Linked DNA regions of Homo sapiens: regions 2, 3 and 4 are each linked to region 1. Evidence: fine-mapped expression QTL. A gene starts in region 1. Each other region holds a variant in brackets. All regions are shown on one strand. Distances are between the middles of the regions. Region 1 holds the start of DENND4B (DENN domain containing 4B). Region 2 overlaps GATAD2B (GATA zinc finger domain containing 2B). Region 3 overlaps INTS3 (integrator complex subunit 3). Region 4 overlaps GATAD2B (GATA zinc finger domain containing 2B).

Region 1 (8,251 bases):
GCTAGGCACAGTGGCTTATGCCTGTAATCCCAGCACTTTGGGAGGCCAAGGCGGGAGTTCAAAACTAGCCTGGTCAATATGGTGAGACCCAGTCTCTACAACAAATAAAAAATTACCCAGGTGCAGTCGCGCACGCTTGTAGTCCTGGCTACTGGGGAGGCTGAGATGGGAGGATCACTTGAACCAGGAAGGTTGATGCTACAGTTCCAACTATGATTGCACCACTGTACTCCAGCCTGGGCAACAGAGTGAGGCCCTGTCTCAAAAAAAGAGAATAGTTTACTTCTGGAGTAGATTTAAAATTACCCCTGTGTTAGCCTCACTATATCACTTTCATTCTGATAGGCACTTTTTTTTTTTTGGAGACGGAGTCTCGCTCTGTTGCCCAGGCTGAAGTGCAGTGGTGTGATCTTGGCTCACTGCAACCTCCCACTTCCTGGGTTCAAGCAATTCTCCTGTCTCAGCCACCCGAATAGCTGGGACTACAGACGCCTGCTACCATGCCCAGCTAATTTTTATATTTTTAGTAGAGACGGGGTTTCACCATGTTGGCCAGGCTGGTCTCGAACTCCTGACCTCAGGTGATCCACCTGCCTTGGGCCTCCCAAAGTGCTGGGATTACAGGCATGAGCCACCACACCCTGCCAACTAATACACATCCCTGGGGTTGAGTAACTGCACTCAACCCCAGGGATGCCCGTGAGAATGTGGAATGTTGTCATGTTTGTTTTGGGAATGGTTGTAGCTAAAGAAGGTGGGAAGCTCTGACTGAGAGTTCTTGGGGTATACACTGAGCAGTAAGCTTCCCTCTTTTTACTTCTTTTCAGGGCGTCCCCCTGGATACCAGTAAACTGTCCACTGACCAGCGGTTACCCCCATACCCATACAGCTCCCCAAGTCTGGTTCTGCCTACCCAGCCCCACACCCCAAAGTCTCTACAGCAGCCAGGGCTGCCCTCTCAGTCTTGTTCAGTGCAGTCCTCAGGTGGGCAGCCCCCAGGCAGGCAGTCTCATTATGGGACACCGTACCCACCTGGGCCCAGTGGGCATGGGCAACAGTCTTACCACCGGCCAATGAGTGACTTCAACCTGGGGAATGTGAGTACTCAGGCTCCTTGCTCAAAAGCAGGGGAGTGGGTGAGGGTGGGTCAATGGGGCCTGAATGGCATGGCTGGTGCACTGTGAATGGGGAGATCTAGGTGGGGTGGGTGGTGGGGAGATCTCCTCTCCCCGGAGGTAACATAGCACTGCCAGCTTGGGGCTCCTCTCTTCCTGCGTTTGACCCTACTCCTGCCCCTCTATTTCTGCTCAGCTTGCTCTTTGATGACTTCTGCCTTGACCCGTTCTCTTCCTGGCATGCACATGCTCTGGCCCAGCAGGTACGGTGCCCATACTTACTTCGGGCCCCGTGCTCGCTTCTGTCGCTCTGCTTGCTGCCACCTCCCTCTGTCATTGCCTCTGTTCCTGGGGTGGATGAAGGTTGCTGGGCAAAGGGGATATGTTAGCAGGGCTAGGCAGGACACCAGTTCTAAATCCTACTTCCTAAAGATTTGTCTGTATGTCTATAGCTGGAGCAGTTCAGCATGGAGAGCCCATCAGCCAGCCTGGTGCTGGATCCCCCTGGCTTTTCTGAAGGGCCTGGATTTTTAGGGGGTGAGGGGCCAATGGGTGGCCCCCAGGATCCCCACACCTTCAACCACCAGAACTTGACCCACTGTTCCCGCCATGGCTCAGGGCCTAACATCATCCTCACAGGTGAATGGGGGTGGGTGGTGATGGGAAATGGAAGGAGGAAGTGACACATTCACTAATGAGTAGGAGATTGAGGGGTCTTGGAAAAGTTTACAGGACATGGGGTCCTCACCTGTCTCTTCTACCCACAGGGGACTCCTCTCCAGGTTTCTCTAAGGAGATTGCAGCAGCCCTGGCCGGAGTGCCTGGCTTTGAGGTGTCAGCAGCTGGATTGGAGCTAGGGCTTGGGCTAGAAGATGAGCTGCGCATGGAGCCACTGGGCCTGGAAGGGCTAAACATGCTGAGTGACCCCTGTGCCCTGCTGCCTGATCCTGCTGTGGAGGAGTCATTCCGCAGTGACCGGCTCCAATGAGGGCACCTCATCACCATCCCTCTTCTTGGCCCCATCCCCCACCACCATTCCTTTCCTCCCTTCCCCCTGGCAGGTAGAGACTCTACTCTCTGTCCCCAGATCCTCTTTCTAGCATGAATGAAGGATGCCAAGAATGAGAAAAAGCAAGGGGTTTGTCCAGGTGGCCCCTGAATTCTGCGCAAGGGATGGGCCTGGGGGAACTCAAGGGAGGGCCTAAAGCACTTGTAACTTTGAACCGTCTGTCTGGAGGTCAGAGCCTGTTGGAAAGCAGGGGTAGAGGGGAGCCCTGGAAGCAGGGCTTTTCCGGATGCCTAGGGGTGGGCAGTGCCAGCCCCTCCTCACCACTCTTCCCCTTGCAGTGGAGGAGAGAGCCAGAGTGGATACTATTTTTTATTAAATATATTATTATATGTTAATAAAAAAATCATATCAAACCCTTGGTGTGGTTAGTTATTTGGGGCATGGCTGGGGATCTAGGGAGTTATAGGGCCATGGGTCTTTTTATCTATTAGGCTTTTTGCATCTTCTTAGCACCACTGTGCTTTGTGGAAGGGCCCCACAGCCTCGGAATTTGTACCCAGCTGGATGTAGGCTTCCACGGCAGCAGGAAATCACTTCATGTGCCCTCCTGTCTGTCCAGGGCCCTGCTGCAGCATCAGATGGGGGCTTTGACTGATCAGACAAGTTATTCCTCTTCCTCAACCCTAGGTCTGGCAGTGAGTCGGGTAAGGAGGTGATTGCTGGCTGAGCCCACAGGTCTGAAGTGCTCCTAGGTCTCAGGGAAGCAAGCCTTCATCCTCACTCCCTCACTATGCATGCATTCACTTCACCCTCTCCACTCTTCACCACTCATTCATTTTAGTTTTAATTAAACAGATCCTTCAGTGCCATGCATGTTCTGAAGGTTTTCTCTTTCTGGATTGGGTTGCCAGCCCTTGGACCAGCCGTGTGGGCCTCTGCACCCCTCACTCCCCCAACCCGCATAGTGAGAAAAGTAGAGCCCCGCAGTTACCTTACCCCCACCTCCACTGCTCTATTCCACACCCTGCAGTCCTGGCCTCTCTTCCTCTTTCCAAAGCTCTTGTCATTTTCAAAAAAGAGAACTGAGAGCTTCTGGTTCTGGTCCAAAGGGAATGCCCTGTGCCCTAAACCTGGAAGTAGGGGGAGCCACCTGGGTCCCCGTAGACTAGACCTTCGGGACTTCACCTGCGCCCACATCATGCTTGCCACATCTGACTGCAGGACCCAGGCGGGAAGGGAGCGCGCCGCGGCCCTCTGGGTCGCCTGGGGTCAGTGTCCTGAGGCACGGGCTGGATGGTGGGAAGCTACCTGGGTGCAGGGGGCCCTCCCAGCCGCCAGGGGTCGGGCTGCAGGCGGCTGGGCTTTGGGCAGACGCTTGCCAGGGTCACGGCCGCCGGCCGAGGAGGAGGGGTGGGGGTAGCGGCGGCGCCCGCGGCCCGGAGCGGGGGTTGGGGGAGTAGAGAAAGCGGGGCGCGCGGAGGAACGCTGGGTCCCCGGCGCCGCGGGAGCTGGGAGGACCGAGCCGGCCGAGCGAGCAGCGCGGCAGCACAGTCCCCGCGTGGCGCAGCGCGGCGGGGACGCGGGGACCGCCCGGATCTCCTTCCACTGCGCCCCGCGCTCTGCGGTCCTCGGCCGCCTCTTCTTCCTTCACTCACTGCCCGGGCGGGAGCGGCGCCCAAGTCGGGTGCGCCATGTCTGGGGCCGGGTAGCCCCGCCGCCCGCCGGCCCGCCAGCTCGCCCTCCGAGCCACCCGCCAGCGGGCCGGCCGGCCGGGAAGCGCGGGACAGGCAGGTAGGGGCTGGACCGGGCTGGGCGGCAGGCGGGGACGGGCAGGAGGGAGCGCGGGCGGCAGGCGGGGTGGGGGATGGCCCCCAGCTGCTGTCCCTCACTGCACATCTGGTTCCGGTTCCTCTCTCCTGGGGAAGTGAAAGTGGAGGGGAGGGCACCTCCCGCAATTAGCTCGCCGTGCCCGGCCTCCTGCACCCCCTTCTGCTCCCGTGGGTGCCGGAGTCGGAGCCGCCCTCCCTCCCGCTTGGGTCACGCGGCGGCCGGCGCTGCTGCCGTCACGTCCTCGGCCGCCGGCGCGCCTGCTTCTCTGCCCTCCTGCTCCTTCCTCAGCCTCCTCCCCCTCGGCGCGCCCTCTGCCCCAACCCGAACTTCCCGTCACCCGGCACGCGGGCGTGGGGACCCGGAGTGGGCCCTGTGCCCGTTGTCTTCCCTAGGGAGAAAGGGCTGCTTTCTGCAGGACTCTTCCCTGGCTTGGTGAGGGGAGGCCCCGGTGCGCAGGTCCTGCGGATGGGTGCCACCCACTTGCCCCTCAGAAGGTCCCACCTAATGGCCTCTGCCTGCTGCCTTGGGCATAGGGCTCCCATTCGCCCTCAGTGGATGAGGGACAGGTCTGTGCCCCAGAATTAAATCAAGAGGCTGACGCTGACTCCTGGCTTTACCTCCCAGAAGTGGAGTCTAAATTTAGCTGGGGTTGGTGTGTGTACGTGTGTGCGTGTGTGTGTGCGTGTGTGTGTGTGTGTGTGTGTCCAGAGGCCAGGTGATGAAGAAAGCCAGCCTGGCTCTATGAGATTCCTTATTCCCTGTTCTCTGGGGGAACAGCAGGAGGTTAGCAGGACTGCACATCCTGGAACCATTCTGAGCCTCCTCTGCCTTGCTCAGGATCCTATAGTCTGAGATTCCAACTTGGCGTAATGCTGTGCTGGCACCTTCAATGGTAACCCCACCACCGCCACCGCCACCACACACACCCATAGGCTGACTTCCTCTGAGTTGCAGCTTCCCCTCCACTGTTTCAGGAAGTAACCTCCCTTCCCCTCTGAAGCACCCCCCACGCTTCTGGGCCCCTGCTGCGAGCTACCCACCAGGCTTTTTCCCAGCTTCTGCACCCTGGGGCGCCTCAGGACCCTTGGGGCTCCTACTCCCCGGGGTTGGGCCATGGAGGCAGGTGAGAACTAGGCTGTTGTGGGCCTGTTTCTGTCTCTGGGCTCCATGGTGGAGGGTGTGGGATGGCCGGGACTTGTCTCTCACAACTGCTTTGGATCTAACGAGCTACCTAAGGATCCTGGAGGTGTGAGAACACTGGATTTTGGGCCAGATTGGTGGAGTTAAGCTAGGAGAAAGGACACTTGGGTTCGTTGAAAAGACTCTTAAAGCTTGGGTTTTGTGGGCTTTCTCAGAAACCCATGGGGTCCTCTTAAAAACCTAGGAGTGGGCTCTTTAAGAACATTGGCAGGATCACAAGGTTCTTATGGTGTCATAACTAGAGTAGGAAGGTCAGAAACCCTTGAAAAGACTGTAAGGTTGGTATGATGTCATGGCCAGCATGAATGATGTCATGGAAGGCTATTACAAAAAAGATTGTGATCTCTGTGATGTTATAACTGGTGAGCCTTTAAAAGGGACACATGGACAATGTGAATGTCATAGCTCAGGTTAGCTGTGTGTGGTGGAGTTTAGGTTCTTTGAGGGGAGTGCCAGGACCATTAAGTGGGAGGGATCTGGTCTCTTTAAGAAGCTGTGGTGGGCAGTGATGTCACAGGGGGAAGAGTTCAGGATTGGCCGACCCCTTATCCTGCCTTTCTTTGGAAGGACTAGGAAGAGGAGGGGAGCAAGAGGGTACCCTGGTTGCCATGGCATCCCCAGCCTTCCTTGCTTCATCTCTCTCCCACTTGACCATTCCAGATGCAGTGAGTGAGGGGGGGGCCATGGCGGAGGAGCGGCCCCCCCGGCTGGTGGATTACTTCGTGGTAGCTGGGCTTGCAGGGAACGGAGCACCCATCCCTGAGGAAACGTGGGTTCCTGAACCCAGTGGGCCCCTGCGCCCTCCCCGGCCAGCTGAGCCCATCACAGATGTGGCAGTCATCGCTAGGGCACTGGGCGAGGAAGTGCCCCAGGGCTACACATGCATCCAGGCTTCTGCTGGGGGCCACCCCTTGGAACTCAGTGCTGGACTTCTGGGTGGAACTCAACCCGTCATCTGCTACCGCAGGGGCCGTGACAAGCCCCCCCTCGTTGAGCTGGGGTGTGTGCCCCTACCCATGCTGGCACCAGGGGAGGCTGGGAGGGACTCCAGTGAGACAGGGAGAGGTAGGACTATGGAACAAGGGAAGGGCAATGGGGATGGGAGCCTGGTGGGCCAGGGGCCAGGAAGGAAGGACTGAAGTTGTATGTACTTAGTCCTTACAGATGCGATTTCATGTGCTAGTGCTGCTCCTTGCTAGCTCTGAGAGCTTAGGCAGGTTTTTGAGCTCCTCTGGGCCTGTTTTCCTCATCTGTCAAATGGGGAAAATAATTCATCCTCATAGGATGGTCGAGATTAAATGAGATAACCCATGTGACAGACTTAACAGAGTCAGTCAGTGGTAGCTTGTATAACTATTTTTTTTTTTTTTTTTTTTTTTATAGACAGAGTCTCTCTCTGTCACTCAGGCTGGAGTGCAGTGGTGTGATCTTGGCTCACTGCAACCTTCGCCTCCTGGGTTCAGGCAATTCTCCTGCCTCAGCTTCCTGAGTAGCTGAGACTATAGGCATGTGCCACCACGTCCAGCTAATTTTTGAATTTTTAGTAGAGATGGGGTTTGACCATGTTGGCCAGGCTGGTCCTGAACCCCTGACCTCAGGTGATCCACCTGCCTTGGCCTCCCAAAGTGCTGGGATTATAGGCATGAGCCACCGTGCCCAGCTGACCCTTAGTGTTTATTAATGAGTATGAGAGCCATAGAAGGCATGCAGGATTGTTGCTGACCATGAAATAAGGCCAAAGGCCAAAGAAAGGGCACAGGATTCTGGAGGGCAGAGTTCAGCAAGAAGAGGTGGGCCCTAGTGTTAGAGTTTGACAAGGCTGTGGGTACAAGGCAAGTTCAGGGGATTAGATAGGCAGATCTGGCAGGATTGGGTCTTTGTCCTCTACCCTGACCTCTCAACATCTATCTTTGCTCTCTGTGCCAAGGGTGTTGTATGAGGGGAAGGAACGTCCCAAGCCTGGCTTCCAAGTGCTTGACACGACACCCTACAGCCACTCAGCAAACCTGGCCCCTCCAGGCCCCGGGCACCCCCGCACCTACCTCACTTACCGGCGGGCAGCAGAGGGGGCAGGGCTGCATGCCCTGGGCATCACTGACCTCTGCCTGGTGCTGCCCAGTAAGGGCGAGGGCACTCCTCATACTTACTGCCGGCTGCCCCGCAACCTCAACCCTGGCATGGTGAGTGGGGCCAAGAGCTGACACCTGGTCCTCTTGGTGTAAGAGTGGGTGTGGACACTGGGAACAAAGGGCATCCCAGGACCAAGGCTCTGACCACAGGGGTGAGTCCAGAGGGGTAACTCTGGTCTTGGGGCACTGGGATTAATGGGAGCTTTAAAGACAAAAGAACATTTAGGGGTGGTAGAGAGAAAGTGGACCCCAGAAACCTTTGTTAGCTATGTATCTGCTTGTCTCTTGCCATTTCTGGGGTAGTGGGGCCCAGCAGTGTACCTGTGCTATAAGGTGGGCCTGGCGAAGGCCAACACGCTGGTGTACGAGGCAGGTGAGTGGCCCCTTTATCCCTCCAATCCTGTGACCCTACATCCCTTTGCCCTGGTGCCTCTTGGCAGGCACCTTAAGTGTCCCCAGAGTTTACTTTCTCTTTGCTACTCGGGCCTTCTCTGGGATCCCTTGGTTCATTTCCCTTGGAGTCTGATGGACCCTGCTCCTTTTGGGTACCCCCAACTATGCTGGGGGTGCAGAGCTGCTGGGCCGCTACCCGGAGGAGGACAATGAGGCGTTCCCGCTGCCCGAGTCAGTGCCCGTCTTCTGCCTGCCCATGGGGGCCACTATCGAGTGCTGGCCTGCCCAGACCAAGTACCCCGTGCCCGTCTTCTCCACCTTTGTGCTCACGGGTGCAGCTGGTGATAAGGTGGGTGTGTGGAGTGTGGCAAGGGGTCCAGGCTATGCAGGGCCTGCCTGACTACCCTTCTGCCCCCTGCCAGGTGTATGGTGCCGCCCTGCAGTTCTACGAGGCGTTCCCAAGGGCCAGGCTATCAGAGCGACAGGCACGGGCACTGGGCCTGCTGAGCGCCGTGGAGCGGGGTCGGGCACTGGGGGGCAGAGCTGTGCGCAGCCGGCGTGCCATCGCTGTGCTG
Region 2 (8,000 bases), 120 kb after region 1:
CCTCCCAAGTAGCTGGGACTACAGGCATGTGCCACCATGCCTGACAAATTTTTAATTTTTTTGTAGAGATGGGGTCTCACCATTTTGCCCAGGCTGGTCTTGAACTCCTGGGCTCAAGCCATCCTCCCACCTCAGCCTCTGGAGGAGCTGACAATACAAGTTGAGCCACCATGTCCGGCCTACATTTAGATTTTGTTAGTGTAAAAAAAATCAAAGTGAAAAGGGAAGATAATGATTAATTAGCTTGTCGTTAACACTTTTTCTTCATGAGTAAAGAAAAAAATAGTGCTTCTTATCAGGCTAAGCACCTGAGTTCTTCATTTTAAAAAGCATCTTAAATGTCTTCAGATTTTGAATCTGCTAACCCTGGTGACATGCAGTTTACCTATATAACAAACCTGCACATGTACCCTTGAACATAAAATAAAAGCCAAAAAAAAAAAAAGATTTTCAATCTGTATCCATGTAGAATTAAGGGCACGTGTCAACAGGCCTTGCTTATGTAGATTTAAGTTTACTTAAATTGCTGGGTTGAATGCCCAGAAATCTCCTTTAATATAAATGTTCTAGGACAATATCAGGTAGGACATAGCTTAGTTAACTTTGAACTTTGTGTGTGTGTGTGTGTGTGTGTGTGTGTGTGTGTGTATGTGTGAGAGAGAGATTCTTGTTAATAACTTCACCATTCCACCTTTTTAAAAATGGACTATTTAAGGGACTTTATTCTGATCTTACTTGTATTTTTCTTTCCATAGGATGGATAGAATGACAGAAGATGCTCTTCGCTTGAATCTGTTGAAGCGGAGCTTGGACCCAGCAGATGAGCGAGATGATGTCCTGGCAAAGCGACTCAAAATGGAGGGGCATGAGGCCATGGAACGTCTGAAAATGTTGGCATTGCTCAAAAGGAAGGATTTGGCAAATCTTGAGGTGCCACATGAGTTACCCACCAAACAGGATGGCAGTGGTGTCAAGGGCTATGAAGAAAAACTTAACGGGAATCTCAGGCCTCATGGAGACAACAGGACTGCTGGAAGGCCAGGCAAAGAAAACATCAATGATGAGCCTGTGGATATGAGTGCTAGACGGAGGTATGGCTCAGTTCAGCTGCCTCCAGGGATAGGGTCGTCTCATAAAGCCTGTGAAAATGGAATGAATTCCAATGAGAGGAGGGTGTTTTTCATCCTAAAGATTCTTAAAAGAAGATATATCATCGAGTTTGACCATAAATTCATTTTATTTCCAAATGAAACCAGGTGCCTCAAAAACTGCTTAGCCTACAGAGAATCGTAGTTCTTACTCTTAAGAGAAAAAATGGTCATTTCTAGATAAAGGGGGCACTAGAGAGCTGATAGGCCAAATGGAAGTGAGTTAATATATACCTTCATTCTAATCTTCATGGCCGTCTTAGGAGGAGAAAAATAGTCTTTTTGTCAGATAATTCCAGGAGTTTTAGGATGTATTTATTGTGGAGTCCCAGCTTTTATTACATCCAAAAACATGGGCCTAGCTTTTCTTGTGTCAGAAAGCAAATTATCTTCATGTGGTAAGTCTCTGCATTCTTGCTGTATCTGTACCACTTCCCCCAGCTCCCCCATATACATATACATTCACTTGTACATGTATGTTACTCTCTCTTTCACTCACACATGCAACATGTTTTCCCAGGCCTTTTTTTCTGGTGTCTTTCAAGGTTGAGTACTTGAAACTGTAGAGCACACAGTAAGGAGAGGTACCTGGAACTGGCCAATGGTTGAGTCTCCCTGTGCAGTGAATCATAGTATAGATAACCCTAGTTGGGGTTTTTTTTTTCTTTTTGTTTTTTATGAGTTTTTTTGGTGCTTTTTTTTTTTTTTTTGAGGCAAGGTCTCGCTCTGTTGCCTAGGCTGGCGTGTAGTGAGTGGCCTGATACCCTGGATTCAAGCGATCTTCCCCCCTCAACCCCAACCCACACCCCACCCCCCTTGAGTAGCTGGGACTACAGGCACATCCCACCATGCCTGTCTAATTTTTGTATTTTTATAGAAACAGGTTTTTGCCATATTACCCAGGCTGGTCTCGAATTCCTGAGCTCAAGTGGTCCTCCCTCCTCAGCCTCCTAAAGTGCCGGATTATGGACATGCACCACAGCATCCAGCCAGTTTTTTTTTTTTTTTTTTTTTTAAGATAGGGTCTCACTTTGTCACACAGTCTTGAGTGCAGTAGCATGATCATAGCTCATTGTAACCACCAACTCCTGGGCTCAAGTTATCTTCGCGCCCTAGCCTCCCAAGTAGCTGGGACTACAGGTGTGCATCATCACACCCAGCTAATTTTTGAATACTTTTGTAGAGACAGAGTCTCACTATGTTGCCCAGGCTGGTCTCAAACTCTCAGCCTCAAGTGATCTTCCCACATTGGCCTCCCAAAGTGCTGGGACTACTGTTGTGAGCCACCACACCCAGCTTATAACCCAAGTTGTGTGTGTGTGTGTGTGATGGAGTTTCACTCTTTTTGCCCAGGCTGAGTGCAATGGTACGATCTAGGCTCACTGCACCCTCCACCTCCTGGGTTCAAGTGATTCTCTTGCCTCTCTACTCCCCTAAGTAGCTGAGATTACAGGCGCGTGCCTGCACACCCAGCTAGTTTTGTATTTTTAGTAGAGATGGGGTTTCACCATGGTAGCCCGGCTGGTCTCGAACTCCTGACCTCAGGTGATCTGCCCACCTCTGCCTCCCAAAGTGCTGGGATTATAGGCATGAGCCATCACACCCAGCCAACCCTAGCTTTTAAAACATTCAGTTTAGGCTGGGTGCGGTGGCTCACGCCTGTAATCCCAGCACTTTGAGAGGCCGAGGCGGGTGGATCATGAGGCGGGTGGATCACGAGGTCAGGAGATCGAGACCATCCTGGCTAACACCGTGAAACCCCGTCTCTACTAAAAATACAAAAAATTTGCCAGGCATGGTGGCAGGTGCCTGTAGTCCCCGCTACTTGGGAGGCTGAGGCAGGAGAATGGTGTGAACCCGGGAGGTGGAGGTTGCAGTGAGCCGCGATTGCTCCACTGCACTCCAGCCTGGGCGACAGAGCGAGACTTCGTCTGAAAAAAAAAAAAAAAGTCAGTTTATAAATAGTTCAGAAACAGCTGATAGCTGTGAGAATTAGTCTTCAGTGTTGAGTTGCCCTCCAAATGACCTTGCTGAGTTTGTTGTAGGACTCATCCAAAGCAGAATCTCTAAGAAGCTGGACTGGTGGAGAATGAAGAAGAAAGAAATGGTTATAACTTTACACATGTTACTTTCTCTACCTTTTGATGTCTACTTACTGGTCTTGTCCCAGGATTATTTTTTAAAACCATGCTCCATAAGCAAACATTATTCTTGGTAGTAACATTAAAAACTCTTAGTAAGCGGTGGCTCACACCTGTAATCCCAGCACTTTGAGGCCGAGGCGGGTGGATCACCTGAGGTCAGGAGTTTGAGACCAGCCTGGCCAACATGGTGAAACCTTGTCTCTACTAAAAATATGAAAAAATTAGCCAGGTGTGGTGGCACACACCTGTGTTCCTAGCTACTTGAGAGGCTGAAGCGTGAGAATTGCTTGAACCCAGATGGTAGAGGTTGCAGTGAGCTGAGATCGTGCCACTGCACTCCAACCTGGGCAACAGAGTGAGACTCTTGTCTCCATTTTAAAAAAAAGCAAAAACAACCACAAAAAAACCTCTTAGGAAACCTCAGGCAGATTCCCTAGAGGTCCTGGAAGAGGAGAAAAATACTTGTAAGTTATAGGTAGTGCCAGCAGAATATTATATAAGTAGGTTCATTTTTAGATTGTTTGCAAGAAAAGGATATGGGTGAATGAGATCATGAACCTGAGCAACCTACTTGGCTTTTATAATCTCTCTTACCCTTCTGGAGCAAGTAACTTATCCCACTTCATTGGGGAGAAAGAGTTAAAGAAATGTTAGGTGGATTCTTCACATTCCAAATTGGAACTTTTAAATGCATTTTTCTTTCCTTTCCTTCTCTTTCCCTTTCCTGACAAGGTCTCACTCTGTTGCCCTGGCTGGAGTGCAGTGTGGCATGATGTCCGTTCACTGCAACCTCCACCTCCCAGGCTCAAGCAATCCTCGCTCCTTAGCCACCCAAGTAGCTGGGACTATAGGCGTGTGCCCCTGTACCCAGCTAATTGTTTTGTATTTTTAGTAGAGACGAGGTTTCGCTGTGTCACCCAGGCTGGTCTCTAACTCCTGGACTCAAGTGATCTGCCCGCCTTTGCCTCCTAAAGTGCTGGGAATACAGGCATGAGCCACCATGCCGGGCCCAACATTTTTCATAGAAACTTTGTTAACACTCTTTTTTTTTTTCCTGTTTTCAGTCCTGCTCCTGTAGACATTTTGATAAGATCTTATTAATGGTATTGGAATTGTATTATATTGCAGATAGATACAGTATATGTTAAAAAGTCAGACTTCCTGAAAACCCAACTTTTTTTTTTTTTTTTTTTTTTTTTAAAGGCAGAGTCTCGCTCTGTTGCCCAGGCTGGAGTAAAGTGGCGCAATCTTGGCTCGCTGCAACCTCCGTCT[C/T]CTGGGTTCAAGCGATTCTCCTGCCTCAGCCTCCTGAGTAGCTGGGACTACATGCTGGCTAATTTTTGTATTTTTAGTAGAGATGGGGTTTCGCCATGTTGGCCAGATGGTCTCGATCTGCTGACCTTGTGATTCACCCGCCTTGGCCTCCCAAAGTGCCGGGATTATGGGCGTGAGCCACCACACCTAGCCAAACCCAACAATTTTTTTAAAAATGTTATTTTGGGGTGATTTTTAAAAATCATTTAAAGAGATGAGGTGTTGCTGTGTTGCCCAGGCTGACGTACATTGGCTGTTCACAAGCACTGTCATAGTGCACTATTTCCTCAAATTCCTGGGCTCAAGCAGTCCTCCCCACTTGGCTTCCTGAGTAGCTGGGACTATTAGGCATGGGCCGCTGTACCCAACATGGGGTGATCTTTTGAAACACAATCCTCTGGAAGCTTGGGACTCCAGATATACTGACAGCTATTTCCACTTAGCCCCGAGATGTATAAGAATGAACAAAACTGCTGGGCACAGTGGCTCACGCCTGTAATCCCAGCACTTTGGGAGGCCGAGGCGGGAGGATCATCTGAGGTCAGGAGTTCGAGACCAGCCTGGCCAACATGGTGAAACCCTGTCTCTACTAAAAATACAAAAATTAGCCAGGCGTGGTGGCGGGTGCCTGTAATCCTAGCTACTTGGAAGGCTGAGGCAGGAGAATCGCTTGAACCCAGGAGGTAGAGTTGTAGTGAGCAGAGATTGCACCACTGCACTCCAGCCTGGGTGACAGACCAAGACCTTGTCTCAAAAAAAAAACAAACAAAAAAACAAAAAAAAAAAGCAAAACCGATAGATTCCCAGCAAGGAGAACCATAGTTTCTTTGATAGTGATAAAAAGAGGAAAGGGCTGGGTGCAGTGGTGCATGCCTGTATTCCCAGCACTTTGGGAGGCCAAAGTGGGAGAATTGCTTGAGGGCAAGAATTTGAGCTCTGTCTGGGCAACATAGTGGTACCTCATCTCTACCAAGAAAAAATGAAAGAATTTGAAAGCAGAAGGCAAGAGAAGTTCTTAACATAATAGCCATGTCATAATAGCCTAAATATCTTATTTTGCCATCAGTTGGGCAAGTTACGATACCTGTGAAATAAGGTATGTATGAAACCAACACTACTAATGTTTTAGAATTCTAGAGAGACACAGCAGTTGTCTGCTTAGTTGTTTTTACTACTGGGATAAGGATTAGGAGCTTTATAGCTTCTGAGAATATGCCAGACTAAGTCACAAGTGATGTCACACCAAGTGGGTCTTTTAATAATATCTCTCTAATAGGTAGGAGTTCATACTTAACTACCCCAAATATTGTAAATTATATATATGTTTAGGAAAAGAGCAAAATAATTTCTCTCTTGGAATGTTTAACAAATGAGGCCAGAATCCTAGTTCATTAGTTTTTTAAAATTAAGAAATGAGGCAGGGCATGGTGGCTCACGCCTGTAATCTCAGCACTTTGGGAGGCCAAGGCAGGAGAATCACTTGAGCCTAGAAGTTTAAGACCAGCCTTAGTAACATAAGGAGACCCCTTCTCTACAAAAAATTTAAAAACTAGCTACTCAGGAGGCTGAGGTGGGAGGATCGCTTGGGCCTAGGAGATTGAGACTGCAGTGAGCCACAAATGATTGCACCACTGCACTCCTTCCTGGGTGACAGAGTGAGACCCTGTCTCAAAAAACAAAAGAAAAAATAAATACAAGAAAAGAGGCTGGACGCGGTGGCTCATGCCTGTAATCCCAGCTCTTTGGGAGGCTGAGGCGGGCGGATCACGAGGTCAGGAGTTTGAGACCAGTCTGGCCAACATAGTGAAACCCCGTCTCTAAATACAAAAATTAGCCGGGTGTGGTGGCGGGCACATGTAATCCCAGCAACTCAGGAGGCAGGAGAATCACTTAAACCTGAGAGGAGGTTGCAGTGCGCCGAGATTGCACCATTGCCCTCCAGCCCCGGTGACAGTGCAAGACTCCGACTCAAAAGAAAAACAGAGAGGCTTTGGCTTTGCCTTATCTGTGCTATCTACCTAATACCGGTGTGTTTATATCTGGGAATAAAATAATCATTTAAAGTTGTTCTCAGATATAACTTCCTGATAAATGGCATACAGTTCCCAAATCTCCATCCAGTAATATCTCTGTCTTGGTACTGGGCAGTTCCTAAGCAGTTAAGTGGCACTCATTTGAGCAAGGAAGAATTCCTTACCTTAGAAATAATCTGTAATGTATATATCCAGCCAGGACCAGAATAGAAAGAGCTTCTAAATGAAAAATCTTCCAGATTCCAAAATTACCGGTGTTTTATTTTTTATTTATTTTTAATTTTTTTGAGACAGAGTTTTGCTCTGTCACCCAGGCTGGAGTGTAGTGGTGCAATCTCGGCTCATTGCAACCTCCACCTCCCAGGTTCATGTGATTCTTGTGCTTCAGCCTCCTGAGTAGCTGGGATTACAGGCGTATACTACCATGCCCGGCTAATTTTTGTATTTTTAGTAGAGACAGGGTTTCTCCACGTTGGCCAGGCTGGTCTCAAACTTTTGGCCTCAAGTGATCTGCCCACCCAAAATGACCCATGTTAATCATAGAGGGGGAGTATAAAGGAATATAGAAATGAGAAGTAAATCACGCTTTAAAAATGAATTCAGGCCGGGCACAGTCGCTCATGCCTGTAATCTCAACACTTTGGGAGGCCAAGGCAGGCAGATCACGAGGTCAGGAGTTTGAGACCAGCCTGGCCAAAACGGTGAAACCCCGTCTCTACTAAAAATACAAAAAAAAATTAGCCAGGCGCGGTGCCGGGTACCTGTAATCCCAGCTACTGAGGCTGAGGCAGGAGAATCACTTGAACCCAGGAGACGGAGGTTCCAGTGAGCCGAGATCGCGCCATTGCACTCCAGCCTGGGCGACAGAGCCAGAATCCATCTCAAAAAAAAGAATGCAGACACTTTATTCAGGCCTGTTACTCCTCATATTTGGGGTTAGAGAATGAAAGGCTCTTTTCTCCCTCTAGTGGCTTTTTCTGTATTTCTACCTTCTCAGCTTGCTGTGTCTGTGGCCAGCAATCTAGACAAATTTAATAGTTCACAAGATAGTCATTCTTACCTTTCTATCCTCCTATTCTATTTCCTTACCTAAGTTTGGTTGATTTTAGCAACTCAGATTTACCCTGTTAGGAAATTGCTTATTCCAGTGATCGGGGTTCCCTGTTCAAAAGTATCCATGTCCTGGCTGGGCATGGTGGCTCACACCTGTAATTCCAACACTTTGGGTGGCTGAGGCAGCAGGATCACTTGAACCCAGGAATTCAAGACTAGCCTGGGCAGCATAGCAAGACCCCCACCCCTTACAAAAAAATAAAAAATTAGCCAGGCACAGTGGTGTGCACCTGTAGTCCCAGCTACTCAGG
Region 3 (8,000 bases), 200 kb after region 1:
TGGAAGGCAGGGAACTGCAGGAAGATGAGATGGTGTTTAATTAGTCCAAGCAGGCCACATCCTGATTCCGGAAAACTACTCAAGCCACCTAATTAAAAGACTCTGTGGCCTTTTCTTTTCACAGAATGGATACACTAGCCAAGGTTACTGGGGAACGTTTCCTCCCCTACCTGCTACCTTTTAACTCCACAGCCCTAGAAACATTTGGAAGGGAGTGAGAAGGAGGGTGTAGGAGAGGACACAGTTTTAAATTTCTAGGTATTGACTTTCACCAAAAGATGTAAGTTTTTTGGAGGGTAGAAAACAGGGCAGTTATCTGGCTGTTATCTGATGCCTGTACAGGAAATTCAGCTTTAAGGTATGGGGACAGGACGTATTTGGTACCACGAATAAAATAAGAAAAATCACTTTTTAGAAAGATTGCTAGCAAAGGTAACGAAATTACCTGAATCCTGGAATGGCATAATAAAGAGAAAGAAAGAGTTGAAAGGCCCCCTGACCCAGGACAGTAAAAAGGAACAAAGACCTATCTGGTAAGAAGAGACTGTTAGGATCTCACGTGCTAGTGCAATGACACCAATAACAGAAGTGGCTCCAGGCCCAGATGTGGCTGCACATCCGTGCCCAGAGCACTAGGTGGCACTGCACAGCAGACAGGGCAGGGCTCTCAGACCTGGGCAGAGCACAGCACACAGCCATCTCTTTCACAAGTGTGAACGTTGGGAGGAGGTCCATTCTTCTGAACTACAGATAGTATGGACACTATTAGCCCTCTCAATCATTTGACTACTATGGTGTCCTCAATCAGAAAAGAGACTTAGAAGTCAAGCAAGAGGAAGACTGAAACCAAGGGGAAAGCCTCACCTCCAAACAAGTTCAGATGTGGAATAGCCCTCATAAAATTTCTGGCCCTTTATTTTGATGGATAAGGGAAAGAATCAGCCAGAAAGCCCAATATGTACCCCCTGATGCACCCTCTACCACTGGAACCTCCAAACCCTATATGCAAACTCCAGCAGGATTCACTAATCTCTATTACCTGCTCCACCCCAACTGCCCCCTGTGCCACTTCAAAAAGAGCAGGGGTTGGATGGAGAAGCTTGCAGGGGAGAAAAGGATACCTGCCAGGCGTGGGTGTTTGGCTGGCCCAATTCTACTGAGCTCATTCCTCCCCAACTTCCCCCTAAGATAAACATTCCAAGGAGGTCTGGATCAAAAATAAACCCTTATCAGATGAAGCCAGTTTTTCTGGGCTATGCGATATTTTGGCAAAGACCTCTTTCCCATTCCTTCATTCCTTGGGCATTAATTTCTTCACTTGCCAACAATACACTTGTCTCTCCCTCTCCTTGCCTCCCCCTCTCTAACTTAAGGTGTTCTTGGGCCACACAATCCTTTCATCCCCATTTCCCACACCCACACTCCTAATGGCCATTATCTGGCCTGTACCCCACCCTTCGTGGTGGATGCTACCTTTGCTCTGTCAGGATATCCAGAACACTTTCTGCCAACCAGATATTTTTGGCTGTAACATCTCCACCTGATTTCAAAAGGGGAAAAAAAGAATAGCTCCGATTAGCAAGTCAGCCAATCCAATACATCTCTTCACCCATTCTGCTGGTCCACCCTGACTGCCATCCCATTACTGCCATCCCTTCACTGCTGAGATAAACTGCCTTCTGTTCTGTCAGGCTTTAAAGTTTCACCCTTTGCCTCCAGAAAGAAGGAAAGGGAAGGTTCTGAATTTTTCTAGAAACCAGAGCTGCTACTTTCCCACAGATTGTGAGTTGGAGTGGGAACATTTTGGCCCTTGAAAATGAACGTCTGAGAAGTAGATATAAGAAGCCCACAGTTGGAAAGAAAGGATGATATCTCAGATAGAGCCTGAGAAGTACAGGTGGCTGACAACAGCTGCAGTCTAGCAACTGGATGTCCTGAGTCCTGCACTGAGGCCCCCAACAGGCCAAGAGTTTCTTATTTCCAGGTAACAGTCTTTAGTGCTTGCTATGAAACTCTGTGGGGCAGAATTAACACACAGCAATGCCATACCAGTCTTGGGATAAGAAGCAGGGGCTGGAAGTGCCAAACAGGGAAGAAGTGCCAGGAAAGAGGATAAAAATAGCTACAACTATGCCTTGCCCCAGGTCTCAATTAAAAAATTCAATGTTCACAAAGTCACATATCACATAGATTAAGGTTCATACACATCAAAACAGGAGCATCAGTGTTACATAAAATTTTAAAGAGGAAGCAAGTCCCAGTGGGCTAATGGTGAGGTAGTAGCAGGTCACTTTTAAACAAACACATGCAATCTTGGGAGTAGCCGCTTGAATATGCGATAGCTCAGACAGATGTCACCGATGCCAAGATGAGAATAAAACCTAAATGTCAGGGTCTGTTCTGTGACATAGTTTGTCCCTCATTCTGGCCCCAGTAAAGGGCTTAATTATTAGGGAGCAAGCGTTCAGATAATGGGGGTGGAGCCAGGGAAGATGTCTAGGTTTCTGAAAGCACAGGGACTTGAGAACAAATTAATTGCCCTCACTTCTCTCCCCATTTCTTCCTGCTCTGAAATGCTATAAAATCTCAGAGTGAAGACTGGCTAAAATAGGCCAAATATTCTGTCAAGCCCTGGGTTTAGCAGGAAAGAAAATGAGGCAAGACTTACTGCTTTAAAAGGCCCCCCATGATTTTTCAATCAATTTATTTCTACAACATATGTGGCCAGAAGATGTCTGTATCAGAAGGAAACAGTCTAAGCAATCCAAGAATTCCATCCCTTTGGCACTTAATCATTCTCCATTGTCTCTATGTAGTCTCTGGGCTCTCCTCCTTTCTTCTTTATGCTCCTGCCATCAAACTCACCTGCAATCTGCTTCATAAACGTCATACAAACACCATCGGCTCCCAGAACCCCACTCTTCACCAGTTCCCGTACCAACCACACCAACTAAAGGAAAGAGGGAAAAACAGATGAAGAGCAGGAACTGTGAGTTTGAGAAGGGAGCTAATTCAATTACAACTGAAAGGAGCACATTACAATTTAGACACACAATGAT[A/G]GGGGTGTGTTAGCCCTGATTCCTCTTTCCCGTTCCTGACAGAGAGAAGATCCATCCTCTCTCTTTGAGCTGGATCTTGTCTTTTCTTTCTGGCCTTACCTGAGTACGGCAGGTATCCTGCAGCTTCAGGTACTTCTCCATAAGTATCTGGTTGATTTTATTCAGGACAATATTCATGCCATCACGACTCACCAGAGCTAAGTCCCGGTAACACTGTGAGAAGTAAAGTTTGTGATCAGCCAGCAAGCTGAGGATAAGGTCCTCACCCCACCCACAGTGGACCCCTTGCCCTCTAATCCCTTAAACTTAAATAACACCAATAAGACACCGAGTAGCAATGAAATACTTTTCATTCTGGACACTTTCTTTCCACAGGGGTCCTGCATTCCCAACCTATCCCTTGTTCTGTCACACAGAGTGGGGAAAAGGTACTGGTTATCCTTTAATGAGGCAGAAAAGCCTGCTGGGCAGCCAGGTGCAGTGGCTCACGCCTGTAATCCCAGCACTTTGGGAGGCCAAGGCGGGTGGATCACGAGGTCAGGAGATCGAGACCATCCTGGCTAACACGGTGAAACCCCGTCTCTACTAAAAATACAAAAAAATTAGCCGGGCACGGTGGCGGGCACCTGTAGTCCCTGCTGCTCGGGAGGCTGAGGCAGGAGAATGGTGTGAGCCCGGGAGGCGGAGTTTGCAGTGAGCGGAGATCGCGCCACTGCACTCTAGCCTGGGTCTAGCCTGGGCGACGGAGCGAAACTCTGTCTCGGGGGCAGGGGAGAGAAAAGCCTGCTGGGCAAGGCTCCTAGTACTATCCCTGTCCCCCCCACTTCCCATCTTAGGAAGTGTCATACTGTTTGATGCCACAGGCTGAGCAAAACCAGGTGGAGGCCATCTGCTTTTCACCTGCCAGTCAGTAAAAGGTCACTGCAAAATGGGTTTGGTTGAACAAGCCAAAAAGGATCCCAAAGAGGTTTTTAGACCAGTACTGACCCAGTCAGATACAGCAAAGGGAGTAGTAAGGGAAGAAGATCCAGGGCAGGGCCCTAGACAGTTAAGGACAGAACCAAAACTGATATTTTTTTGAATTTTTAGTTTTTTTATACTTGGGGTCTTACTTTGTTGCCTGGGCTGGAGTGCAGTGGCATGATCATAGCTCATTGCAGCTTCGAACTTCTGCGTAGCTGGTACTACAGGCATGCACCACCACGCCCAGATAATTTTTAAAACAGTTTTTTCTAGAGACAAGGTCTCACTATGTTCCCTAGGCTGAAACTCTTGGCCTCAAGTGATTCTCCCACCTCGGCCTCCTCAGTAGCTGGAATTACAGGCATGAGCAACCATACCCAGCTGAACTAAATATCTTTATTCTTTTCTCTGTGATGCCCTTTCCTTCTGCCACTTATTGAAAAAGGAAAGGTGCTTTAGCATACCAAATCCTGGGGGAGGTAAGGGAGGGCATGCTAATTTCTTCTGTGAGATTATTGCTTCCCTTCCCCCCTTAGTTTTTTTTTTTTTTTCACTCTGTCTCTATTGTGAGACCAGACTCCTGGAGGAATACCTTAGGGGGCCTCATTAGCAACTTCCTTAGCCTGCTGAGTTCTATCCCGTCAGGATCTCATCAGAAAGAGTAGAAACTAGGCAGGTAGCTTCCCACAACCTCTGAAGACCAGTAGCAAGGATGGCATCAAAAATAATAATCATATAGTATAGCAAGGGCCGGGTATGGTGGCTCATGCTTGTAATCCCAGCACTATTTGGGAGGCCGAGGCGTGTGGATCATCTGAGGTCAGGAGTTCGAGACCACCCTGGCCAACATGGTGAAACTCCATCTCTACTAAAAATACAAAAATTAGCTACGTGTGGTGGCACGTGCCTGTAGTCCCAACTACAAGGGAGGCTGAGGCGGGAGGATCACTTGAACCCAGGAGGTGGAGGTTGCAGTTAGCCAAGATCGTACCACTGCACTCCAGCCTGGGTGACAGAGACACCCTGTCTCAAAAAAAAAAAAAAAGTACAGCAAGGATGTTGTTATACTATAGCAAGCAATAATACAGCAAGGATGGCATCAACAACAATAATATATATATATGTATATATTACTGCATTTGATATACATAACAACCTTTTAAAATAGTACTACTTATTATAATTATTTTTACAGATGAGGAAATAGGCATGGAGAGCTTAAAAGTTATTTGCCCCAGATGACATAAGAGATTAGAGGAAGAACCAGGATTCAAATCCAGGCACTCCAATTCTATAACATGCTTAACCACCTCTTGTATCAACGTTAGAAATAACCAGAAGAGGCTGCTGGGAATAGCGGTATGAGTTTGTAATAGTTTTGAGACTCTACCTTTCTCCTGTCTTGGCCTCCCAAAACACTGGGATTACAGGCATGAGCCACTCCGTGCAGCAACATTTCTAAACTCTTTCATCCTATGCATTCAAAAGAAATGTACCCCTCAGTACCATCTGCTCTCTAGCCTTGAGAGACTCCTAACAGATTAGCTATTGCCACTTCCTTCTGCCTCTATTGTCGTTAAGTCAAACCAACTGATGATGAAAATACCCACAGTGAGAGATCCTCCATGTGCCATAAACTTCATCCCCAAAAGAGAATGACTCCCTCTGGGGGATGGTTGATGGTTGGGAGACCAAAAAAACAAATAAGGAAACAAGAAAGAGATGAAGGGTCCCAGTGAATTACTGTCAAATATTGATAGTTAAGTCCTGGACCCTCCCCTGGAGGTAAGTCACAGAATGGGCAGAGGACAAAGGAAGTAGAGGCAGAGGGAAAATCTGTGTCAGGCCAAAGACAGACATTACTAACTAGAGAAGAACCTTGTTGTTCAAATGAATGCAGAACAGACTCAGGACAGGGAAGCAGGACAAGTTCTCTCAGGAGATACAGGGTCAGATGAAGACAGCAGATACTGTCTGCCTAGTTCCATGTTCCATCTGGGATCTTTACTAACCACAACTGCTGGTAACAAATGAGAACCGAGAGTTTCATACACCTAAGGCTGCCAGTTGTGTTACCGACCTCTGTGTCGGTTTGCTGACCAGCTTGGAAAAGCAGCAGATGAAACACACACACACACACACACACACACACACACACACACACACACGCACATGCACACCCTCAGTGAGGAAAAGAGAAGTGGAGAGTCTCAAAGAAAAGTAAAAGTGACTGGTGACTGGATGGCATCTATCCTGAATGTGTCAAGAGCAGTGATGTGTCAGCCTAGGCCCCAGAGCCCCCAAGCTTCTTTCTAGAGCTGCCTGCTGGGAGAAATACCTAGACCAAGAGCTGCCTGGGCCTGAGTCCTTGACCCTTTGATGAAGACAGACCTTGACATTAGACCCTTTCCCATTACCTTTATCTATTGACTGCCAGCACCTGCACAGCTTAGGACTCTACCTTAGCCTCCCTCCTTGCCACAGTTCCCCAGCCAGGCCTGCTCCCAGCTGTTTAGTTCAGACACCAAATAGAAAATAAATAAACTCAAAGGATATAAACATTCCTAAGGGCTGCCAAGAGGGCTGATGCAAATCAAGAAGGTACAAGTGAGACAAAATCCACCCCATGCATCCTCTACTCTTTCCCAATACTGACCTGCTTTCTCCTTAACTGAATTCTCTTGTTCACCTGTTCAATCCATCCTAATCCCACCCACTAAGTCCCAGAGAGTTGGCCCTAACTCCTTGAACCTGCCTGCCAGTACTAACAGAGGCTCCTCAGCTCAACCTTCCTTATAGCAGTATTCTATTTGTTCAAGACTCAGTTTCCACACTTCTCCACCATATCCACTTCCCATCTCAGCCCATGAAGATTCAAGAACAACTAAATCTCAAATACATCCTGAGGTTTCTGTTCCAAAGGCAGAATTAACCCCAAATACAAATCCTTAGAAAACAGTCCCATTGCTTTAAGCTGAAGCCTAAAATGATGCATTACAATCAGTCCTCATCAGTAACTCCCACCTAAAACTTCTGTAGGACAGAAGTATTTTTACAAAATAATCACCCTTTTAGGGAGAAGGAGCAAAGCTCTAGGGAGATACGTCACTAATTCTTCCATCATGCTCTGACCTGGCTCAAGGTCTCTGAATGAGTCACTACTTGATAGTTCCTCACCCGCCTAAAACTGTGTCCTCCTAATTCTGTCTTTACTGCCTTTGTCTGAAGAGGCCTGACCTGGAGGCTTGGCCCAGGAAGGCTCACAGGTAGGGGATTTACTTGGAAACTTTTAGCATGTGAACATGAATGCTAGCAAAGGTGTCAACCAGCTATGAGACCCGAGGCAAATGCTTCACTTCCCCAGAGGGCCTGGGCCTCCCACATGGGGCTGTTATAGGGCAAAAAGAAGAGGAGATACTCTAGTCTCTTGCTGTGTCTGGATGGCCAAATTCATGACATAATAAGCATTTACACTGCAGAACCCAGTGGCCTCTTACTGATAGGCCAGGCAAAGAGCTAGAAATACCACACATACTCTGCCCCCTTCACTTAGGTTTACTGATTTACCCAGGTTGGTTCAGATCACCTGAAACAAACAAACAAAACTTTCCAGCAGGCAAGACTAATTTGCACTGAGATGACTAAATGGAATTTGAATGGTATTTATAAAAACCCACACACAGCCAATGATGCGCACGCACACACACACACACACACACACACACACAGAGATTAAAAAACCCACACAAGAGGAAGTTAAACTTTAACTCCATCCCATCTACTCTCATCTTTGCCAACAATTTCTTTAAAATGGATGTGCTGGACTGGATCATATCACTCTTTAAAACCACCCAACTGGAAACATTCATTTGTCTTCAAGGATCTTGATGATAAATTCAGTATAAAAATGAAACAGCAATTTAACTCGACAAGGTCCCAGCCCAGAATGGGCTTGGCTTTCCTGGGAAACCAAGAATT
Region 4 (8,000 bases), 76 kb after region 1:
CTCAAGTAGCTAGGACTACAGGCATGTGCCTTTGCACCCAGCTAAATTGCTTTAAAAATGTTTTGTAGAGATGGGGTCTCACTATGTTGCCTAGGCTGGAGTGGAGCTCCTGTACTCAAGCAATATATCCACCTTGGCCTCTCAAAAGTGCTGGGATTACAGGCATGAGCCACCATGACCAGCCCCAAGAAATTTATTTCTCACGGCTCTGGAGGCTGGAAAGTCCAGGGTCAAGGGGCCATATCTGCTGAGGGCCTTCTTGCTGGTGGGGACCTTGCAGAGTTCCAGAGTGGCACAGGGCATCACATGGTGAGGGGACTAACGAGAGACAGCCACATTGGCTTTTATTACAGACCCACTCTTGTGCTAACTAGCCCCTTCTCTGAATAACCCATTAATCTGAGAATGGCTCAAGCACTTCCTAAAGGTCTCGCCTCTTAACACGCCTGCATTGGGCACCAAGTATCCAACAGATGAACTTCTGGGGGACACATTCAAATCGTTGCGGGGTATTAAAGCGAAGTACAAAGAAGAGAGATTTGCTGTCAAGTAGTTTGCATTAAACTTGGAAATAAATATGAATTGGTAGGTTACCTATTAAACAAGTGTGTTAGAGTAGCCTAGCAGTTTTCAAAGTGTAGTCTGTGGAATCCTAGAGAATAGACTCCTTTCATGGAGTCTGTGAGATCAGAATAGTTTCATAATAATACTAAGTCATCATTTGCCTTCTTCCCTGTGTTAACATTTGCAGTGATATCCAAAAGCAATGCTGATTAAAACGTTAGGGTAACCCTGAGCAATAGCACCAAACTAGTAGCAGGCATTGTGTTCTTTATTGTCATGCAGTTTAAATTTGCAGTAAAAAAAAAAAAGTTTCATTTAAGAATGTTCTTGATGAAGCAGTAAAAATTAATTTTATTTAATCTTGACCTTTTAGTACTTGGCTTTTGAATATTTTGTGTGATAAAATGGGAAGTACTCAAAAAACACTTCTGTTATATATTGAAGTACTGTGGTTGTCTAAGGAAAAGTACTTTTACAGTTATTTGGGTTTCCAGCTAACTAGTTGTCTTCTTCATAGAACAGCATTTTTACTTGATGAAAGAATAACCAACAAAGTACGTTATTTAGACTTGGGTATTTGGCAGATGCTTTCTTGAAAATTTTCAAGGAAAACAACTATTTTTGCCCAGTGATAAAATTAAAGCAAAAATGAGAATTTTGGAAAGTTTATATACTCCACCATGAGACGGTCCACTTCCCAGTTAGTTTTGTGGGGTTTTTTTTTTTTGATATTATGTAATATGTCAACCTTCGAAAGAGCTGCATGACTTAGTGAACTAGAAGTTTTCACATGACCAATATATTATGTGACAAAATCAGATTTGGTGAGAGATCCACTCAAAGTATAAAGTAGACCAATGTATTTTAATGTAATAATACAAAAGTTCATTGATAGGGTTTCAGAGTTCACATTTGCTGCTAACCTTTAGAAATTACTGGGTTGCTTTTTTTTTTTTTTTTTTTTGGAGACAGAGTCCTCTGTCACCCAGGTTGGAGTGCAGAGGCGGGATCTCAGCTCACTGCAACCTCTGCCTCCCGGGTTCAAGTGATTCTCCTGCCTCAGCTTCCCAAATAGCTGGGATTACAGGCACACGCTACCACACCCAGCTACTTTTTCATATGTTTAGTAGAGATGGGGTTTCACCATGTTGTTCAGGCTGGTCTCGAACTCTTGGCCTCAAGTGATCCGCCTACCGCAGCCTCTCAAAGTGCTGGGATTACAGGCATGAGCCACCGCGCCTAGCCTAGGTTGCTTTTTAAAAATTAAGTTAAATTTCACATAAACATCAAATTAACTTTTATTTATTAATTTACTAATTAATTTATTTTTTGAGACAGGGTCTCACTTTCTCACCCAGGCTGGAGTGCAGTGACACGATCTCAGCTCACTGCAGCCTTGACCTACTGGGTTCAAGTGATCCTCCTGCCTCAGCCCCCCAAGTAGTTGGGACTACAGGCACGGGCCACCATGCCCTGCTAAAGAATTAACCATTTAAAAGTGTACAATTCAGGCTGGGCACGGTGTCTCATGCCTGTAATCCCAGCACCTTGGGAGGCTGAAGTGGGCGGATCACTTGAGGCCAGGAGGTCGAGACCAGCCTGCCCAACATGGTAAAACCCGTCTCTACTAAAAATACAAAAATTAGCCAGACTTAGCAGTGCATACCTGTAGTCCCAGCTGCTCGGGAGGCTGAGGCAGGAGAATTGCTTCAGTAATATCAAGGAAAATATCCACGATTCTAATAAATTTAAGAGGCTGTTAAAAATGCCTCTTTCTCTGGCTGGGTACAGTGGCTTACACCTGTAATCCCAGCACTTTGGAAGGCCAAGGCAGATGGATCACTAGGTCAGGAGTTTGAGACCAGCCTGGCCAACATGGCAAACCCCATCTCTACTAAAAATACAAAAAAACAAGTGGCCGGGTGTGGTCGCTCACGCCTGTAATCCCAGCACTTTGGGAGACTGAGGTGGGCAGATCACAAGGTCAGGAGTTTGAGACCAGCCTGCCTGACATAGTGAAACCCCGTCTCTATTAAAAATAGAAAAATTAGCCGGGCATGGTGGTGCTCACCTGTAGTCCCAGCTACTTGGGAGGCTGAGGCAAGAGAATCACTTGAACCCGGGAGGCAGAGGTTGTGGTGAGCCGAGATCGCGCCACTGCACTCCAGCCTGGGCAACAGAGCGAGACTGTCTCAAAAAAAAACAAAAAACAAAAAACACCAGGCGTGGTAGCACCCATCTGTAATCCCAGCTACTCCAGAGGCTGAGGCAAGAGGGGAGGCAGAGGTTGCAGTGAGCCAAGATCGTGCCACTGCACTCCAGCCTGGGCGACAGAGCAAGACTCCGTCTTGGGGAAAAACAAAAAAAACCTCTCTCTAGTATCAGTATGAAATAATGGGTTCTCATATATACACATATACACAGGTTTGAGTATCCCTTATCTAAAATGCCTGAAACCAGAAGTGTTTCCAATGTTGGATTTTTTTGGATTTTGGGATATTTCTGTATACATAATGAGGTATCATGGGGGTGAGACTCAAGCCTAAACACAAAATTGATTTGTTTCATATATACCTTAAACATATAGCTTGAAGGTCATTTTATAACAACATTTTGTGCATAAAGCAAAGTTTTGACTGCATTTGACAGCATTTTGATGTGGAATTTTTTTCACATTTTGAAGTACTTTGGATTTTTTCCTTTTTTTTGAGACGGAGTCTGGCTCTGTCACCCAGGCTGGAGTGCAGTGACGCGATCTCTGCTCACTGCAAGCTCTGCCTCCTGGGTTCACGCCATTCTCCTGCCTCAGCCTCCTGAGTAGCTGAGACTATAGGTGCCCGCCACCACGTCCGGCTAATTTTTTAAATTTTTTTAGTAGAGACGGGGTTTCACTGTGTTAGCCAGGATGGTTTCGATCTCCTGACCTCGTGATTCTGCCCGCCTTGGCCTCCCATAGTGCTGGAATTACAGGCGTGAGCCACTGTGCCTGGCCGGATTTTTTCCTTTTTTTAGTAAAAAGTAGAGACAGGGTGACCAGGTACAGTGGCTCATGCTTGCAATCCCAGCACTTTGGAGGCCGAGGCAGGTGGATCTTTTGAGGCCAGGAGTTCGAGACCAGCCTGGCCAACATGATGAAACCCTATCTCTACTAAAAATACAAAACATTAGCGCTGGGCATAGTGGCAGGCCTTTGTAATCCCAGCTACTCAGAAGGCTGAGGCAGGAGAATTGCTGCTGGAATCTGGGAGGCAGAGGTTGCAGTGAGCCGAGATTGTGCCTGGATGACAGAGCCAGACTTCATCTCAAAAAAAGGAAAATGTAGAGACAGGGTTTTGCCATGTTGTTCCAGCTGGTCTTGAACTCCTGGGCTCAAGGCATCTGCCGCCTCAGCCTCCCAAAGTGCTGGGATTATAGGTGTGAGTCACCACACCTGGCCCAATTTGGATTTTCTGATGAGGGATCTTCAAGTGGTACACACATATGCAAATATAGATATAGAAAAAGATATGGATGTTACGTGTGTATGCATGCATTTTATTTCCTTTTCTGAAAGGGCCTGGAAGTAGTGACACCACCTAGCAGTGAGCACACCTGACACCAGATCTTGGTTTCGCAACACCATTCTCCAATAAGAGGAACCAGAGCTGCTTGGAGACATGGCTAGGGCAGATAAAAAAAGATGATGAACCTGGAACATCGTGTGGATACCAGAAGCTAATAAATT[G/A]CCAAAAAAGTAATAGAGAACCAGCTTGAAGGAGCTTTCAATGGCCAGATCTGGGACAGTTTGAAAAACAAATAATGATAAATAGATTATAACCCATGGGGTAAAATAAATATCCATAAGTTTATGCTGCTATAAATAAATATGGGAAAGAAAACAATTGTTTTCTGCAGTGAAACTCAAGTTGATAAATAGAAAAGGAATAATGGAAACATTAGGCAAATACTACAGTATTTGTTGCAGGCAAGAGTTGTCTTTTTTTTTTTTTGAGATATAGTCTTGCTCTGTCGCCTGGGCTGTAGTGCAGTGGCACTATCTTGGCTCACTGCAACCTCTGCCTCCCGGGTTCAAGTGATTCTTCCGGCTCAGCCTCTCAAGTAGCTGGGACTACAGGCACCCACCATCATGCCTGGCTAACTTTTGTATTTTTGTAGAGAGGGGGTTTCACCATGTTGGTCAGGCTGGTCTTGAACTCTTGACCTCAGGTGATCTGCCTGCCTTGACCTCCCAAAGTGCTGGGATTACAGGCGTGAGCCACTGTGCCCAGCAAGAATTGTCTTTGTATGCTAAAATTAATATGTGGAATTTTGATTGGAGATGGGATATTTACACAGTGGCTTCTAAGTATCTTGGCTTCGTCTCTACTAAAAATACGAAACTAGCCAGGTGTGATGGTGCGTGCCTGTAGTCCTAGCTACTCGGGAGGCTGAGGCAGGAGAATGGCTTGAACCCAGGAGGGGAGGCTGCAGTGAGCCAAGATGGTGCCACTGCACTCCACCCTGGGTGACGGAGCAAGAATCTCTCAAAAAAAAAAAAAAAAAGTATATAGTATATATATTAGTGGGAAAACTGGTGACATGTGAATAAGATCTGTAGAGTAGTTAATAAACACTATTGTTTCCTGGTTTCAATAATTGTACTGTGTTTATATGTTAACATTTAGGGGAGCAGGGTGAAGAATATTTGAAACTTCTGTAAGTCTAAAATTATTTCAGAACTTAGTTTTAAAACATAAGTTTATTAAAGACTTTAAATTTTTTAAAAAAGAACTCCTACCTTCCTGTGTATCTGTGTGAGACCACATCCACCCCCACCCCGTCCCCCATGCTGTTAACTAGAACAACATCACTGCACATTGAATGCAGAGGCAGCTATGAGAATCCAGCTGTCTGCTATTAAGCCAGACATTAAAGAGATTTGTAAAAATATAAAACAAGGCCACTTTTCTCACTAAATTGTTCTGTTATTTTGGAAAATATTTTTCATAAAGAAGTTATGTTAACATGGAATGGGTTTATTTTTAAATGCATTAATAATTTTAAAATTTTTATTTTCTTTTATTTATTTATTTTTTTTTGAGATGGAGTCTGCCTCTGTCCACCCAGTCTAGAGTGCAGTGGCACGATCTCAGCTCAATGCAACCTCCTCCCTCCCGGGTTCGAGCAGTTCTTCTGCCTCAGCCTCCTGAGTAGCTGGGACTACAGGTGTGCACCACCACGCCTGGCTAATTTTTGTACTTTTTAAGTAAAGACGGGGTTTCACCATATTGGCCAGGCTGGTCTTGAACTCCTGACCTCAGGTGATCTGCCCACCTCAGCCTCCCAGAGTGCTGGGATTATAGGCGTGAGCCACTGTGCCTGGCCTAAAATTTTATTTTAATTCTGTTTCTAATATGGTGACTCTTTTTTTTGTTGTTTTTTGAGACGGAGTCTCACTCTGTCGCCAAGGATGGAGTGCAGTGGCACCGTGTTGGCTCACTGCAACCTCTGTCTCCTGGGTTCAAGCAATTCTCCTGCCTCAGCCTCCTGAGTAGTTAAGATTACAGATGCTCACCACCATGCCCGGCTTGTATTTATATTTTTAGTAGAAACAGGGTTTCACCATGTTGGCCATGGTGGTCTTGAACTCCTGACCTCAGGTGATCCACCCGCCTCAGCCTCCCAAAGTGCTGGGATTACAGGCTCACGTGAGCCACCGCGCCTGGCCTCTTATGTGACTCTTTTAGTTACTGCTCTCTTTGGGGTCCTTGATTTTATTTATTTATTTATTTAGAGACAGGGTCTTGCTCTGTCACCCAAGCTGGAGTACAATGGTGCAATCATAGCTCACTGTGACCTCAAACTCCTGAGTCCAGACACTCCTCTTGCCTCAGCCTCCCAAGCGGGTGTCTTCCATAATCATTCATGTCAGATTATTTTCTCTGATTTGCCAAATTTATTTCTAACCTCCTGGTTGCTAACCTTGCCAGATATATTGTAGTATAATAAGCAGTTTGGGGTCTGATATGTTCTGTTTGTTTCTGTCATGTAAGGAGATCAGTGTGGTTTCTTTTGGTTCTATGTTATCTAAGTCTCCTCTTAGAAATAGTAGCGTTCCCATACCACACCGAGGTGTGCTCTTCTCAAGCCCTTGTCCATACCCTTTTCCATTCTGACAGTTAATTCCAACCTCTAAGGTAATCCTATAAAATGGTATATTGGAGGCCAGGTGGCGGTGGCTTGAGTCTGTAATACCAGCACTTTGGGAGACTGAGGCAGGCAGATCACTAGATCAGGAGATCAAGACCATCCTGACCAACATGGTGAAACCCCGTTTCTACTAAAAGTACAAAAATCAGCTGGTGTGGTGGTGTGCGCCTATAATCCCAGCTACTTAGGAGGCTGAGGCAGGAGAATCTATTGAACCCGGGAGGCGGAGATTGCAGTGGCTGAGATTGTGCCACTGCACTCCAGCCTGGCGACAGAGCAAGACTCCGTCTCAAAACAAAACAAAACAAAACAAGGTACATTGGAAATAATTTCACTTCTTTGTAGCATCAAAAATGAAACCTTTTCTGTACCCATTCTGCTTTTCTTTAGGGCCTTTTACCCCCATTTGAGGAATTTGCAGTTTGGTTTGTGTGTGTGTATAAATTCATTAGGAAACTGAAATGGAGAGGTTATATCCTTGGGAAGTGCAGAATAATTACTGGGATTGATTGATAATAGGAAGCATTAGATAGCTTGGAACGAGCTCAGCCATCTGGTTTGCATTAGGGCAGGTTGGAGATGGTGCAAGACCATTGCTATGTGATTTTTGCCAGAAACTGAAAGTGCATTTTGTTTACAGTTTAGAAGACAAATCGTCTTTCATTCACCTGTACAGTTGTAAGTAGAGGACACAGGCCCACTAATCTCAGAAGCTTGGTTGAGAAATAATTTATTTGGATCATTATTTGCTCTTTTAAAATACATGAATTGTCATTAGAGAATATAGCTAGGCTGCTACTGGATTAGCTATACTTATAACATTCTCACCTCTCTATTATGACTAATTTAGTGTACAGAGCTATGAATTTTTTTTTTTTTTTTTTTTTTTGAGACCTAGTGTCACTCTGTTGCCAGGCTGGAGTGCAGTGGCACCATCTCAGCTCACTGCAACCTCCGCCTCCCAAGTTCAAGCGATTGTTCTGCCTCTGTCTCCTGAGTAGCTGGGATTACAGCTGTGTGCCACCACACATGGCTAAGTTTTGTATTTTTGTATAGACAGGGTTTGACCATGTTGGCCAGGCTGGTCTTGAACTCCTGACTTCAGATGATCCGTCCGCCTCAGCCTCCCAAAGTGATGGGATTACAGGCATGAGCCACTGTGCCCGGCCTCAAACTTCTGGGCTCAAGCGATCTACCCACCTCAGCTTCCCTAAATGCTGGGGTTACAAGTGTGTGCCACTGCACCC

The links.
Region 2: its variant is fine-mapped to the expression of DENND4B in whole blood (TOPMed, PIP above 0.99).
Region 3: its variant is fine-mapped to the expression of DENND4B in whole blood (TOPMed, PIP above 0.99).
Region 4: its variant is fine-mapped to the expression of DENND4B in whole blood (TOPMed, PIP 0.93).

The regions. Positions count from the first base shown.
Region 1 is chr1:153,941,961-153,950,211 of GRCh38, reverse strand. It overlaps DENND4B (DENN domain containing 4B), which reads left to right and starts at 3,494. Exons shown (of 28, transcript NM_014856.3): 1 at 3,494-3,911; 2 at 5,815-6,154; 3 at 7,082-7,334; 4 at 7,587-7,656; 5 at 7,856-8,025; 6 at 8,099-8,251. The coding sequence starts at 5,838. CRTC2 (CREB regulated transcription coactivator 2) reads left to right here. Exons shown (of 14, transcript NM_181715.3): 12 at 828-1,097; 13 at 1,568-1,754; 14 at 1,883-2,537. The coding sequence ends at 2,103. RefSeq lists enhancers at 2,923-2,992, 3,804-4,304, 4,773-4,822, 5,143-5,242 and a silencer at 3,383-4,282.
Region 2 is chr1:153,821,104-153,829,103 of GRCh38, reverse strand. It overlaps GATAD2B (GATA zinc finger domain containing 2B), which reads left to right. Exons shown (of 11, transcript NM_020699.4): 2 at 756-1,091. The coding sequence starts at 757. Among named protein-coding and RNA genes, the nearest start is that of SLC27A3, 50 kb to the right of the region's middle. The variant C/T (reference allele first, on the strand shown) is at 4,565.
Region 3 is chr1:153,742,229-153,750,228 of GRCh38, reverse strand. It overlaps INTS3 (integrator complex subunit 3), which reads right to left. Exons shown (of 30, transcript NM_023015.5): 4 at 3,159-3,272; 5 at 2,866-2,950; 6 at 1,474-1,540. Among named protein-coding and RNA genes, the nearest start is that of INTS3, 18 kb to the right of the region's middle. RefSeq lists enhancers at 3,975-4,714, 4,715-5,454. The variant A/G (reference allele first, on the strand shown) is at 3,060.
Region 4 is chr1:153,865,845-153,873,844 of GRCh38, reverse strand. The region is part of intron 1 of GATAD2B (GATA zinc finger domain containing 2B); the gene reads left to right. Among named protein-coding and RNA genes, the nearest start is that of GATAD2B, 53 kb to the left of the region's middle. The variant G/A (reference allele first, on the strand shown) is at 4,289.